2 linked regions of the Homo sapiens genome follow. The protein of the gene in region 2 purifies or fractionates together with the protein of the main gene of each other region. This does not show direct contact. Each region holds a gene or a part of one and is shown on either strand. Other genes may lie near its edges.

Region 1 (5,498 bases), on a different chromosome or scaffold from region 2:
TGTGGAGCTGGGCTTCTACAGGGGATGCTCAGGGCAAACCCCTCCTCGCCCGTGTCCAAGTGGAAGGTGGCAGGGCCCCAGGGCACCCAGACTCCACCCCACCTGGGCTGCGGCAGGAGAACTGCTTGAACCCAGGAGTCGGAGGTTGCAGTGAGTGGAGATCGCGCCACTGCACTCCAGCCTGGGTGACAGAGTGAGACTCCATCTCTCTCTCTCTCTCTCTCTCTCTCTCTCTCTCTCTCACACACACACACACACACACACACACACACACACACACACACACACACACACACTGAGTTTCAGGCCAGGCGCAGTGGCTCATGCCGGTAATCCCGGCACTTTGGGAGGCCAAAGTGGGCAGATCACCTGAGGTCAGGGGTTCGAGACCAGCCTGGCCAACATGGTGAAACCTTGTCTCTACTAAAAATACAAAAATCAGCCAGGCGTGGTGGTGCAGGCTGTAATCCCAGCTACTTGGGAGGCTAAGGCAGGAGAATCGCTTGAACCCAGGAGGCAGAGGTTGCAGTGAGCCGAGATCGCACCACTGCACTCTAGCCTGGGCGAAAGAGTGAGACTCTGTCTTAAAAAAATAAAAACAAAAGTAAAAATAGTTTAAAACTAGGAGCAGCCTGAAGGCTCCTCATGCCAGCGCCATCCTCCGTGCACCTGCCAGCGCTTACTGACGCCGTCTCTGGGTCAGGTGTTCTGAGGCTGCTGGGGATACACAGAGACCCTGTGTCCAAGGCAGCCCACACATGCTGACTGTGGGGGGGTTGGCCTGCACCCGCGGTCCCTTCCGTAACTAAAGACTGCGGTGTCGGCCGCCTCAGGCATGGCTACTAAAGACCCGCACAGACGGCCACATAGTGTACACTCCAATTACAGGATCTGTCTGGAAGGCAGGTCCCTGGGGACAGAAGGTAGACGGGTGGGTGCCCGGGGGAGGGGGAAGGCGGGTTCACGCTAACGGGCACAGGGTCTGTTTTCGGGGTGATGAAAACGTTCTGGAATTTGCAGTTTGACAGTTGCACAACCTTCTGAACATACAAAAAAACCACTGAATTATATAAAGTGGTGAATTTTATGGTATGTGAATCATATATCCCATTTGAAAAGCAGACTGACAAAAATTTGTTTCTAGGCAGGAAACAGGAAACTGGGGAAGCCAAGTGTAGCTTTACCCTACTCAGGGAGAACAGTGTTGGAGAGAAAGCTGTCAGCTTTTAGAACGCGATGGCAAAAGCTGTGTGTGTGGCAGGGAGAAGTCTTGGGGCTTTTTGCAGCAAGGAAAGTTCTGGGCAACCTTCGTGGCAGTGACTCCCCCTCTGGAGCCTCAGCTTCAGCAAAGGACGAGGGCATGTCCCCAGAGCAGCCACAGTCAGGCCCAGATCAAGGTTTCAACCCACGGGGAGGCTGGGCTGGGGGCTCCGTGCAGGGGTCGAGCCACAAGGCATCTTGAGCCTCCCCTGCAAGAGCATCAAGATGAAAGCCAGGGATAATTAACGCCGTCAGGCCTGGGGCGACTCCACAAAATCCTTTGTGGCGGCCTGAAAGAAAAAGCAAATAGATGCAAAACCCATCTCTGGTTTCTAGGATAGAAGGACCTTTGAAATTATAAGACATTAAAATAAAGCTTCGGGTAAAAGGACTGTCATGTTCTAGCTGCAGATTTGATGTGAGATCAAAACGGAATTGCTCCTGAAAGCCCAGGCACCGGCCTGCTGTGCAAAGCGCGCCCCACCCCAGCGTGCAGAGACGCGGCCCCGGACCCTTGCGGCTCATCTCACCTGAGGCTGCCGTCTCTCCTCCAAGGGCTGGGGGTCCCCTTCTGATCATCCTTCTCTGCTTCTTTGTCCCCTCCACTTTTTTTTTTTTTTTGAGATGGAGTCTTGCTCTGTCGCTCAGGCTGGAGTGCAGTGGTGTGATCTCGGCTCACTGCAAGCTCCGCCTCCCAGGTTCACGCCATTCTCCTGCTTCAGCCTCCCGAGTAGCTGGGACTACAGGTGACCGCCACCACGCCTGGCTAATTTTTTTGTATTTTTAGTAGAGACGGGGTTTCACTGTGTTAGCCAGGATGGTCTCAATCTCCTGACCTTGTGATCCACCAGCCTCGGCCTCCCAAAGTGCTGGGACTACAGGCATGAGCCACCGTGCCCAGAATGTTCTGTTTTTGTTTGTTTGTTTGTTTGTTTTTTGAGACAGGGTCTCGCTCTGTCACTCAGGCTGGAGTGCAGTGGTGCAATCACGGCTCACTGCAGCCTTGACCTCCCAGGCTCACATGATCCTCCCACGACAGCCTCTGGAGTGTCCCCTCCACTTTCTTTCTTAGGGGCCCCTCAGGGACATGTCAGAGGCCTGAGACTACTTGGGGGATGTCTATGGGCCAGGCAGGCTGCCAGCAGCTGAGCTGTCCTTGCCCTGGGGCTCCTCTGCAGTCAGGGAGACACCAGGCATGGGCCTGGCTTGGATGCATCAGTACTTGACTGCAAAGACTTAAACCACAGACAGGAAAGGCGCTGCTGCAGTCTCGACGGTCAAATGCAGGGCCCCCTCAGCTGCCATCCCACTGAGGGGCGAAGGCCCATCATCTCCCTTCGGCTCGGTAACTGCCTGGCGTAGCACAAGGGTTCTCTTTAAATCCCCAGCAAATGGAGCTGAGTGGAAATTCCGCCCCATATTACCAGGCACACGTCTCCTTCCACTCCTCACTATACCCTGCCCATGCCACGGCCGCCTTCTGAGAATAACGCTGACAGTTCCATGGCCCACAGCCCCTCTAGTTAACTTGCTGTGCACACGGCAGCCCAGCCAGAAACACGCAGCCAGGTCGGATATTGGGTGCATTCAGTCGTGAAGCCTGAGGCTTCCTGGCTCCCACTGAGCACAGAGAAGTGTTCTGAAGGACAGGAAGCAGCTGGCCTCACTGCTCTTCTCAGACGGCTGATGGAGAAAAGCTCACAGCTGCCTGCGCCGCTCTGCCTGGACTTGCATCCTCGGCCCCACCCCTTGCGCAGCAGTGAGGCCCCCCGAGACACTGGTGCCTGGGCTTGCGGTACCGCAGGGCTGCTGGACAACGGGCCAGACGCAGCCCCAGTGTGGATCCAGAGGTCTCTCTCCGTAGCAAGCCATGGAAGCACGACGGGCACTGTGCTGAGAACCCTGGTCTGCACTTCTGACCTGGGGCTCTGGCTGTGCGGTTCTGCTGAGCTCATCCGAGAGTCCACGCGTGCATGGCGGAGACCTGAGTCAGCGGCAGGGCCACCCCGTTATGGGCACCCCAACCCCTTATTAGGGGTGTTAATCAGCACAAATGAGCAACTGGCTCATCAGTCGGTGCAGGCTGACAGGTGCAGGAAATACGGAGGGCAGGCGGGGTAGGGGGCACGGAATGCTTCCCAACATGAGGGCATCTCAGGCCAGCAGGCGGGGCCCAGAGACCCAGAAGCACCACAACTCCCCCGTGTCCACAAGGCACTTTATGCATTCAAAACCACCGAATTCACACCCAGGTTTGCTCAGACAGAGGCCCAGAGGCGACCCCGCTCTGGCGTGGCTACCACCTGAGCGGCTGGCGGCCCTGGCCCAGCTCGGCCTCCGCGTAGGCGTCATACAGCACCTTCAGGTGCAACAGCAGCTGCTCCAGGTTCTCGCCGGTCAACGCCGACAGCACGATGACCTCCTGTCCCAAGTGATCCCGGAGCTGGGACAGATTGGCTTGGGCTTCAGGGAGGTCAATCTTGTTTGCGACGATTGCGTGGGGCCTCGCAGACAGGCCCTTTTCATACATCTCCAGTTCATATTTTAAATCGTCAACTTGAGTCCACGGCTCAGGCTGAGAAAGATCCACCACGAACAAGAGAAAGCGGCAGCGCTCGATGTGCCTGAGGAAGGCGGACCCCAGACCCCTGTTCTGGTGGGCGCCTCGTATGATGCCGGGGATGTCGGCCACTGCAGGGAAGACAGGGGCACACGAGGTGACCACTTGGCACACCCAGCACCCAAGAGCGCCTTCCACCTCGAGCCTGGGAGAGAAGGCCTGGAGCCCACTGCGAAGGCGGATTTCCTGAGTTCTAACACTTTCCTTTCAAGGAACGCCTTGAACTGAAGCCATTTGATTTAGCACCTGGGTGATTCACTGGGCCAACTGACACCTGAGGAATTCAATGCTTGGAGATGTTTGGGAGACCAGCGTGGCGATGGATCTATCTAGTAGAGTACATTTCATACCTTCTCTTTCTGCTTCTAATAGGATTCAAAAAAGAGGAAAATGGCTGCCTGTACTCTACTAATCATTTGATTACTGATAGAAATTTACATGTAGAGTACTCTGCAGATATAAAGTGCCATCCAAATAACCTTACCAGCAGGCTTACTATTTTTAATGGGTGTATTGTCTTCTGGGAAAAAGTTTTATTCTCTCAAACGGCACAAGGAAAGCTTTTAAGTCACGTGTTGTGATGCTGCTGAGCTTCCACAGATGAGAGGGGACAAATAGAGTGGGAAGAAATACTGTCCTCGGCTGGAATTTCAATGCAGGTTTCTGAACTGTAACTGACAGATTCCTAGGGGATGGGGTGGGAACCTGATTTTCATAGAGAACAGGCTGATGAAAATTGTTTAAATTAGGGCCAGGTGCAGTAGCTCACGCCTGTAATCCCAACACTTTGGGAGACCAAGGTGGGGCGGGGGGCAGATCACTTGAGATCAGGAGTTCGAGACCAGCCTGGCCAACATGGTGAAACCCCGTCTCTACTAAAAATACAAAAAAATTAACTGGGCGTGGTGGCGCACGCCTGTAATCCCAGCTACTTGGGAGGCTGAGGCAGGAGAATCACTTAAATATGGGAGGTGGAGGTTGCAGTGAGCTGAGATCGCACCACTGCACTCCAGCCAGGGTGACAGAGTGAGACTCCGTCTCAAAAAAAAAAAAAAAAAAAAGTTGTTTACATTAGGAAAAACAATGCTACTTTTTTTTTTTTTTTTTTGAGATGGAGTTTCGCTCTGTCGCCCAGGCTGGAGTGCAGTGGCATGATCTCGGCTCACTGCAAGCTTTGCCTTCTGGGTTCATGCCATTCTCCATCCTCAGCCTCCCAAGTAGCTGGGACTACAGGTGCCCGCCACCACACCCAGCTAATTTTTTTGTATTTTTAGTAGAGACGGGGTTTCACCATGTTAGCCAGGATGGTGTCGATCTCCTGACCTCGTGATCCGCCTGCCTCGGCCTCCCAAAGTGCTGGGGTTACAGGTGTGAGCCACCACGCCTGGCCAACAATGCTACATTTTAAACAGAAAGCTAAATTTAAGAGTTACATCATTACTTTTCTGAATTACATCATTTAAATCTAACCTTTGGGAGAATTCTGGAAGTTCTACCTGCTATTTGTAGGTGGCCTTCGTAGTGGACGATCCCGACGTGGGGCTTCAGGGTGGTGAACGGGTAGGAAGCCACGGCGGGTCTGGCGTTTGAAATGGCCCGGAGCAGTGAGGACTTCCCG
Region 2 (8,875 bases):
GTTCTGTAAGTACTAGCCAGAACAACCAGGTAAGAGAGAAATAAAAGGCTTCTAAACTGGAAAAGAAGGGGCCGGGTGCAATGGCTCACGCTTGTAATCCCAGCACTTTGGGAGCCCAAGGTGGGCAGATCACTTGAGGTCAGGAGTTCAAGACTGGTCTGGCCAACATGGTGAAACTGCATCTCTATTAAAAATACAAATATTAGCTAGGCATGGTGGCTGGCACCTGTAATCCCAGCCATTCAGGAGGTTGAATAAGGAGATTCGCTTGAGCCCAGAAGGCAAAAGTTACAGTGAGCCAAGATCACGCCCCTGCACTCCAGCCTGGGCATCAGAGTAAGACTCTGTCTCAAAACAAAATAAAACAATAGGCCGGGCACGGTGGCTCACACCTGTAATCCCAGCACTTTGGGAGGCCGAGGTGGGCAGATCACGAGGTCAGGAGATCGAGACCATCCTGGCTAACACGGTGAAACCCCGTCTCTGCTAAAAATCCAAAAAAAAATGGCTGGGCGCCATGGCAGGCGGCTGCAGTCCCAGCTACCCGGGAGCCTGAGGCAGGAGAATGGCGTGAACCCAGGAGGCGGAGCTTGCAGTGAGCAGAGATCGCGTCACTGCACTCCAACCTGGGCAACAGAGTGACACTCTGCCTCAAAAATAAATAAATAAATAGGCCGGGTGCGGTGGCTTACGCCTGTAACCCAGCACTCTGGGAGGCTGAGGCAGGTGGATCACCTTAGGTCAGGAGTTCAAGACCAGCCTGACCAGCATGGAGAAACCCCATCTCTCCTAAAAATACAAAATTAGCCAGGTGTGGTGGCACATGCCTGTAATCCCAGCTACTCCGGAGGCTGAGGCAGGAGAATTGCTTGAGCCCGGGAGGTGGAGATTGTGGTGAGCCGAGATCGTGCCATTGCACTCCAGCCTGGGCAACAAGAGCAAAATTCCATCTCAGAAAATAAATAAATAAATAAACAAATAAAACAAAACAATAAAATAAAAAGAAATTGGAAAAGAAGAAGTCAAATTGTCTCTCTTTGCAGACATGATCTTATGTATAGAAAAGCCTAAACAATCCACTGAAAAAACTCCTAGAACTGATAAACAAATTCAGTGAAGTTGCAAGATACAAAAATCAACATATGAAAATCAGTAGCATTTCTATACACCAATAATAAAATAGAAAAGAAATCAAGAAAGTGATCCCATTTACAAGAGCTACAAAAAATAAAGTCCCAAGGAATAAAAGTTAGCCAAGGAAGTGAAGGACCTCTACAACAAAAACTACAAAACACTGATGAAGGAAATTGGAAAGGTCACAAAAAAGTGGAAAGACATCCCATGCTCATGGATTGGAAAAATTAATATTGTTAAAATGGCCATACTACGGCTAGGCACGATGATTCGTGCCTATAATCCCAGCACTGTGGGAGGCCTAGGAGGGAGGATCACTTGAGCCTAGGAGTTCAAGACAAGCCTGAGCAACATAACGAGACACAACAAAAAAATTTTAAAAATTAGCCAGGCATGGTGGTACACACCTTGCAGTCCCAGCTACTCAGGAGGCTGAGGCAGGAGGATTGCTTGAGCCCAGGAGTTCAAGGTTACAGTGAGCTATGATTGTGCCTCTGCACTCCAGCCTGGGCAACAGAGCGAGACCCTGCCTGAAAAATAAATAAATAAATTTTTAAAATAAGAAATAAAAATAAAATTAAATTTAAAAGGCCATACTACCCAAAGCAATCTACAGATTCAGCGCAATCCCTATCAAAATAGCAACGACACTCTTCACAGAAACAGAAAAAACAATCCTAAAATTTGTATAGAATCACAAAAGACTCCAAATAGCCAAAGCAATACTAAGCAAAAAGAATAGAGCTGGAGGCATCACCCTACCTGAGTTCGAAATATACTACAGGGTGGGCAAGCACATGCCTGTAATCCCAACACTTTTGGAGGCCAACGTGGGTGGATCACTTGAGCAGAGGAGTTTGAGACCAGCCTGGACAACATGGAGAAACCCCATCTCTACCAAAAAAAAAATAGTAGCCAGGCATTATGGCACACACCTATAGTCCCAGCTACTTCAGAGGCTGAGGTGGGAGAATCACTTGAGTCCAGGAGGTGGAGGCTGCAGTGAGCTGAAATTGCTACTGTACTCCAACCTGGGACATAGAGCAAGACCCTGCCCCAAATATAAATATAAATATTATACACTACAAAGCTATAGTAACAAAACAGCATGGTATTGGTATAAAAACAGACACAGACCAATGGAAAAAAATGGAGAACCCAGAAATAAATCTATGTACTTACCACAAACTGATTTTTTGACAAAGGCACCAAGAACATACACTGGGAAAAGGACATCTTCTTTAATAAATGGTGCTGGGAAAACTGGATATTGATAAGAAGAAGAAAAGTAGACCCCATCTGTCATCACATACAAAAATCAATTCAAAATGGATTAAAGACTTAAACATAAGGCCTGAAACTATAAAACTACTAGAAGAAATCCTAGGGGAAATGCTTCAGGACATGGGTCTAGGCAAAGATTTTATGGCTAAGACTTCAAAAGCACAGGCAACAAAAACAAAAATAGACAAATAAGACTATATTAAACCAAAAACGTCTGCACCGCAAAGAAACAGTCAACAGAGTTAAGAGACAACCTGCAGAATGGGAGAAAATATTTGCAAATTATTCATCTAACAAGGGACTAATATCCAGAATATACAAGGAATACAAATGACTCAACAGCAAAAAACAAACATAATATTAAGTGGGCAAAGGACATGAATAGACATTTCTCAAAAGAAAACAAATGGCCAACAGGCATACGAAAAAATGCTCAGCTGGGTGCAGTGGCTCACACCTGTAGTCCCAACACTTTGGGAGGCTGAGGTGGGCGGATCACAAGGTCAAGAGATCGAGACCATCCTGGCCAACAGGGTGAAACCCAGTCCCTACTAAAAATACAAAAATTAGCTGGGCATGGTGGCAAGCACCTGTAGTCACAGCTACTCGGGAGGCTGAGGCAGAATTGCTTGAACCCATGAAGCAGAGGTTGCAGTGAGTCAAGATCATACCACTGCTCTCCAGCCTGGTGACAGAGCGGGACTCCGTCTCAAAAAAAAAAAAAAAAAAAAAAAAAAAAAAAAAAAAAAAAGCTCAACATCACTAATCATCAGAGAAATGCAAATCAAAACCACAATGAGATATCATCTCACCTCAGTTAGAATGGCTGTTATCAAAAAGACAAATGCTGGCGAGGATGTGCAGAAAAGGGAACTCATACACTGTTGTTGGGAATTAAGTTAATACAGCCATTATGGAAAGTAGTATGGAGGTTTCTCAAAAAACTAAAAATTGAACTATCACATGATTCAAACAGTTCCACTACTGGGATAAATAACCCTAGAAATCCTGATTCCTAGGGAATCGGTACCTGATTTCCTTTCCTTTGGATAAATAATCCAGGAGTGGGATTGCTGGATCATATGGTAGTCCTATTTTTAGTTTTTTGAGAAATCTCCTTACTTCTCTCCGTAATGGAAATCAGTATCCAAATGAAAGGAGGGATATCTGCACGCCCTTGTTTACTGCAGCACTATTCCAAGAGCCAAGATATGGAATCAACCTAAGTGTCCATCAACAGGTGAATGGAAAAAGAAAATGTGGTACCTATACACAATGGAATATATCCAGCCATAAAAAAAATATGGAAGCCCTGTCATTTGCAGCAATATGGGTGGAACTGGAGGTCATTATGTTATGTGAAACAAGCCAGACACAAAAAGACAAATTTCACATGTTCTCACTCATGTGAGAGCTAAAAAAAAAAAAAAAAAAAAAAAAAAAAAAAAAAAAAAAGTAGAATTAATGGGAGTAGAGAGTAGAATGATGGTTACTAGAGGCTGGGAAGTGGGGGTGGGGGGAGGATGAACAGAGGTTGATTAATGGGTACAAACATACTGTTTGATGGAAATAAGATAAGTTGAAATAAGAAATAAGTTGATAGTACAGTAGGGTGACTATAGTTAACAATAATTTATTGTATATTTCAAAATAGCTAGAAGAGAAGATTTGAAATGTTTCCAACACAAAGAAATGATAAATGTTTAGCCGGGCCCAGTGGCTCATGCCTGTAATCCCAGCACTTTGGGAGGCCTAGGCAGGAGGATCACTGAGGTCAGGAGTTCGAGACCAACCTGGCCAACATGGTGAAACCCCATCTCTAGTAAAAATATGAAAATTAGCTGGGCATGGTGGTAAGCACCTATAAACCCAGCTACTTGGGAGGCTGAGGCAGGAGAATCGCTTGAACATGGGAGGCAGAGGTTATAGTGAGCTGAGATGGCACCACCGCACTCCAGCCTGGGTGATGAGAGTGAAACGCCATCTCCAAAAAAAAAAAAAAAAGAAAAGAAATAATGTTGAAGGTACCCCAGTTACCCTGATTTGCTCATTACACATTGTGTGCAAGTATAAAAATATCATATGTACCCCATAAATATGTACAATTAATATGTATCAGTTTAAAAAGTTAATGACGATGGTACCAATATTATAGCCTCATTTAGCAGATGAGGAAACTGAGGCACTGAGCTATGAATTAACACACCTGAAATCACAGAGCACAGTCCAGACTTGAACCCAGACTGTCCAGTTCCAGTGTCCCAGCTCTAGGTCATGACCTCAGGGTCATCCCCCTCCCCTGCCTCCATTTAGCCTTCACTGTGACCCCCAGCTGCAGCCTGACATCAGTGTGATTATTCACGGGGTGGGTAGCCTGGGGCCACTGAAGGCCGGTTTGCTTTGAGCACTGCTCTCCAATGAGGCTGGAAGCCCTTTGAGGGGCTGTCGTATTCACCGCGGGATGCCCAGGTCCCGCCCAATTGGCGGAATCACCGTTTGTTGAGTGAATTCTTGAACGTCTGTGCATGGCATGCATGTGCCTGCCATTTGCTCATCTTTACCACACACTTGGCTGCAATGGCTGTCACCTTCAATAGGCGCCTTGCCAGGGACAGAGAGCTCAGGGACAGCCAAGGAGACTGGAACTGCTCAGCTGGGGATAGGGAGCCTAGGGGGCCCTGGCAGGCCCCCAAGCCTCTCCTGGGTTGTCCTGGCCAATTCACAGGGAGGCTGACCCCAGCTTCCAGGAATAAAAGATTCTGACCTCTCCGTGGCAATGAGCCCCTGTCCCAGGGGTGTGCGGGAGATCCCTGGTTATCTGAGGTGTCTCCAGGGTATATCCGCTGAAACCCCACTTCCTCTTCACTGCCCACTGAGCCTGGGACCAGCTGCTGGTCACGTGCTTGGCCCTGTAGCGTCGCTAGCCGTGCTCCTCAGTGTGCTCCCCGCCCCCTGCCGCGGCGCCTCGCCTCCCGGCTCACCTCCCCACCCCACCTGCCCGCTGCGGCTCTCCGCGGGAGATCTCACCGTTCTGGAGACAGGGCTCGCTCGCTCTCACGGTAGGCTGGAAGAACGGGCTGTCTGGGCCTTAGGAAAGGCCCATGCTGTATAAGGCATGGGGAAAGGAAAGGAAGAAAGGCAACGAACAAGAAGGAGGGCTTCCAACTGCAGCTTCCTGCCGGCTGCAGGCCTCCCTTCCTAAGCTGAGCTGAGGCTTCCTCTCCATGGGCTGGGGAGGGGGCGCCAGGAGGCCTCGGCGGGTCCGCAATTGGCCGGGACAGCTTCTCACGAAAGGTCCTGGGCCGGCATCATCAGCCTCACCTGGGAACTGGTTAGAACTACAAATTCCCTCGGCCCCACCCAGACCGACGCCAAGGGCAGCTGTGGAGTGGGGCGCGGCAATGCGCCCCTTAACAGCCCTCCAGGTGATTCTGCCGCGCAGAGGAGGAAAGAATGGGAGAAGGGAAGGGGAGAGGGAGGCGGCTTCTTTGCGACTAATTGGACACCTGCCCTTCCCCTTCCCAGGCTTCTTAGCCCGGGCTTGGACAGCCGCCTTCCGGCCAGAGGGGATGAGGTTGCGCTGCGCTCCGGGAGCGCCGATGGCGTGACTGGCCCCGCGCGGAGCAGCGACAGTAAGGCTGTGTGGGGGGAGCTGGGACCTAAGCCGCGCGCACACCCCTTTCTCTGCGTCTGGTGGAGGTGCACAGAGGCTTTTGAGTCAGGCCCAAGCGCAGCCAGGTGACCTCCCCGCGGCCTTTCAAGCCTGAGCTCGGTGGACAGCTCCCTCTCCCGTGAGTCCCGCTGTCCTGTACGCGCCCGGTCGAGCCCCGGGCTGCGCACCCCGCTAGGAGGTGGGTACTCGTCCTCCAGGAGTTGCCGGTGAGCCCTTGACCGTGGCAGGTCCCCTCCAGCCGCGAGCGACCCCTCAGTACCTGCCGATGCCTGCTGGTCTCTGGCATCCTCCAGTCGAGGGTCAGGGTCAGGGAGCAAGGCCTCACGCGGGCGCCCTCCTTGCAGCTGCCCGGCCAGCCCGCTTCTCTGCCCGGAGCCATGAATCTCAGTAGCGCCAGTAGCACGGAGGAAAAGGCAGTGACGACCGTGCTCTGGGGTGAGTGGGGACTCAGGCTCCTTCCCAGAGACACGCCCCACCTCCGGTGCGCGGCAGCTTGGGGCGCAGGTGAGCCCCTCCTTTGGGAACGAATGGAGGGCCCCACTTCCCTCCCTTTCTCCTCCGCAGGCTGCGAGCTCAGTCAGGAGAGGCGGACTTGGACCTTCAGACCCCAGCTGGAGGGGAAGCAGAGCTGCAGGCTGTTGCTTCATACGGTAGGTGTTCCCAAAAGAGGGGAGGAAGATGGTGTCCGGGAACTTTCTGGTCCCAACGGAGGGCTATGGATTTCTCCCGTCGGCCCTCAGGGTGATGAGGGGCCTCTATTTTCAACCCCGCTCAGATTTGCTTGGGGGAGAAAGCCAAAGAGGAGATGCATCGCGTGGAGATCCTGCCCCCAGCAAACCAGGAGGACAAGAAGATGCAGCCGGTCACCATTGCCTCACTCCAGGCCTCAGTCCTCCCCATGGTGCGCATTTCCCTGCTGGCTGGAAGACTGCTGTCAGCCTCACCCTCACCCTTGGGTGGGGATGGACACACACGAGGGTGCATTCACCCTACAGAAATGAGCCATGCTAGGGAGGTAGCACAGCCCATGCAGAAAGCCGGGGTCCAGCCCAGCTCACCCCTTCCTAGAGCTGTGTGACCTTGGGCCAGTTAAGCTGTCTGCAAAAATTACACTTTAAACCAGGGGTCCCCAACTGCCGGGTCAAGGACCAGAACTCGTCCTGTTAGGAACCAGGCAGCACAGCAGGAGGTGAGCAGCCAGCTAGCCAGCATTACCCCTGAGCCCTGCCTCCCGTCAGATCAGAGCGGCATTAGATTCTCAGAGGAGCATGAACCCTATGGTAAGCTGTGCGTGCGAGGGGTCTAGGTTGCATGCTTCTTATGAGAATCGAATGCCTGATCTGAGGTGGAGCAGTTTCATCCCAAAACCACCCCCCACTCCCACCCCATCCATGCAAAAATTGTCTTCCAGGAAACCATTCCCTGGTTCCACAATGATTGGAGACTGCTGCTTTAAACCATTCACTGCTAGTGACAGGAACATGGTCGATCTACATATTGGTTGTGCATCCAGAAATTCTCTAGTTTCTAATAACTTAAGTTTTCTATGCATATAATAATTGTGAATAATGGCAGTTCTTGCCTTTTTTTTTTTTTTTTTTGAGATGGAGTTTCACTCTGTCACCCAGGCTGGAGTGCAGTGGTGCAATCTCAGCTCACTGCAATTTCTGCCTCCCAGGTTCAAGCAATTCTAGTGCCTCAGCCTTCGGAGTAGCTGGGATTACAGGTGTGCACCACCATGCCTGGCTAATTTTTGTATTTTTAGTAGAGACAGGGTTTCACAATGTTGCCCAGGCTAGTCTCGAACTCCTGACCTCAGGTGATTCGCCCGCCTTGGCCTCCCGAAGTGCTGGGATTACAGGCGTGAGTCACCACGCCAGGTCTTTTTTCTTTCTTTCTTTCTTTTAATCCTACTGCACTGGCTAGGCCCTGCAGTGGAATATTGGGTGAACATGAGATCAGGTCTGACATCCTTATTTCCTTCTTGTTTTTTAAAAAAGAAGCATTTGGTAAGTACATTTTGTCAGGTTAAGGAAGTCCCCATCTAAAACCCTCTGCTTTTAAAAAATTGCTTTGCTTTGAAATCACTAGAGGGGGTTAAATTTTACCAAATGCTTTTCTATTCATATGATTCTAGGTTCTTTAGTCCACGTGGTAAATTATATGAAGATAATAATATCTGAGTTCCTTTGCCATCCTGGGATAAATACTACTGGTCATGTTACAAATTCTAGATTTGTTTTACTCATATATTGAGCCCTTTTTTTTACCTGTATACATGTGAGGTTGGCCTATAAGTGATAGTATTTAGGTGTTCAGGACATGCTAGCCTCATGCACTGAGGGTGGAGGGTTCTCTCCTATTCCCTGGAACAGTGAATGGAAGACTAGGATCAGCTGTCCTTGGAGGTTTGGGAGACCCCTCTGTCAAACTGCCCTCAGACTTTCCTGTTCTATTTACACATACTTTGCAGGCGATCTCATCCTTTCCTGTGGTTTTCAAGACCATCTAAACAAATGAAGACTCAGGAACTTATTTCTGTAAACTCAACCTCTCTTGAGCTCCAAGTCCTATATCCAACTAAATGGCTTTGATAGATATCTAATAAATATCCCAAATTTAACATGTCTAAATCCACATATTCAATTTTTATCTCTAATCCACCCGCCTCCCCTTCAACCTGATTTTCTCTCAGAAAACAGCTGTTTTTCCAGTTAGCCAAGACAAAGCTCTTTTTTTTTTTTTTTCCCCTGAGATGGAGTTTCACTCTTATCACCCAGGCTG

What was found.
Region 1: the proteins of NPM2 (region 2) and MTG2 purify together in Homo sapiens (affinity purification with mass spectrometry; 2 studies listed by BioGRID and IntAct, with this or other methods). This does not show direct contact.

The regions. Positions count from the first base shown.
Region 1 is NC_000020.11:62,199,136-62,204,633, reverse strand, and holds the end of MTG2 (mitochondrial ribosome-associated GTPase 2), read right to left. Parts: coding exon 5,377-5,498; exon of another isoform or gene 5,351-5,376; intron 3,952-5,350; coding exon 3,557-3,951; 3' UTR 1,551-3,556; coding exon of another isoform or gene 1,393-1,550; 3' UTR 1,066-1,392; downstream 1-1,065. UniProt on the Homo sapiens protein: Plays a role in the regulation of the mitochondrial ribosome assembly and of translational activity. Displays GTPase activity. Involved in the ribosome maturation process.
Region 2 is NC_000008.11:22,018,781-22,027,655, forward strand, and holds the start of NPM2 (nucleoplasmin-2), read left to right. Parts: upstream 1-5,353; 5' UTR 5,354-5,843; intron 5,844-5,943; 5' UTR 5,944-6,050; exon of another isoform or gene 6,051-6,435; 5' UTR 6,436-6,468; coding exon 6,469-6,526; intron 6,527-6,655; coding exon 6,656-6,741; intron 6,742-6,866; coding exon 6,867-6,992; intron 6,993-8,875. UniProt on the Homo sapiens protein: Core histones chaperone involved in chromatin reprogramming, specially during fertilization and early embryonic development. Probably involved in sperm DNA decondensation during fertilization.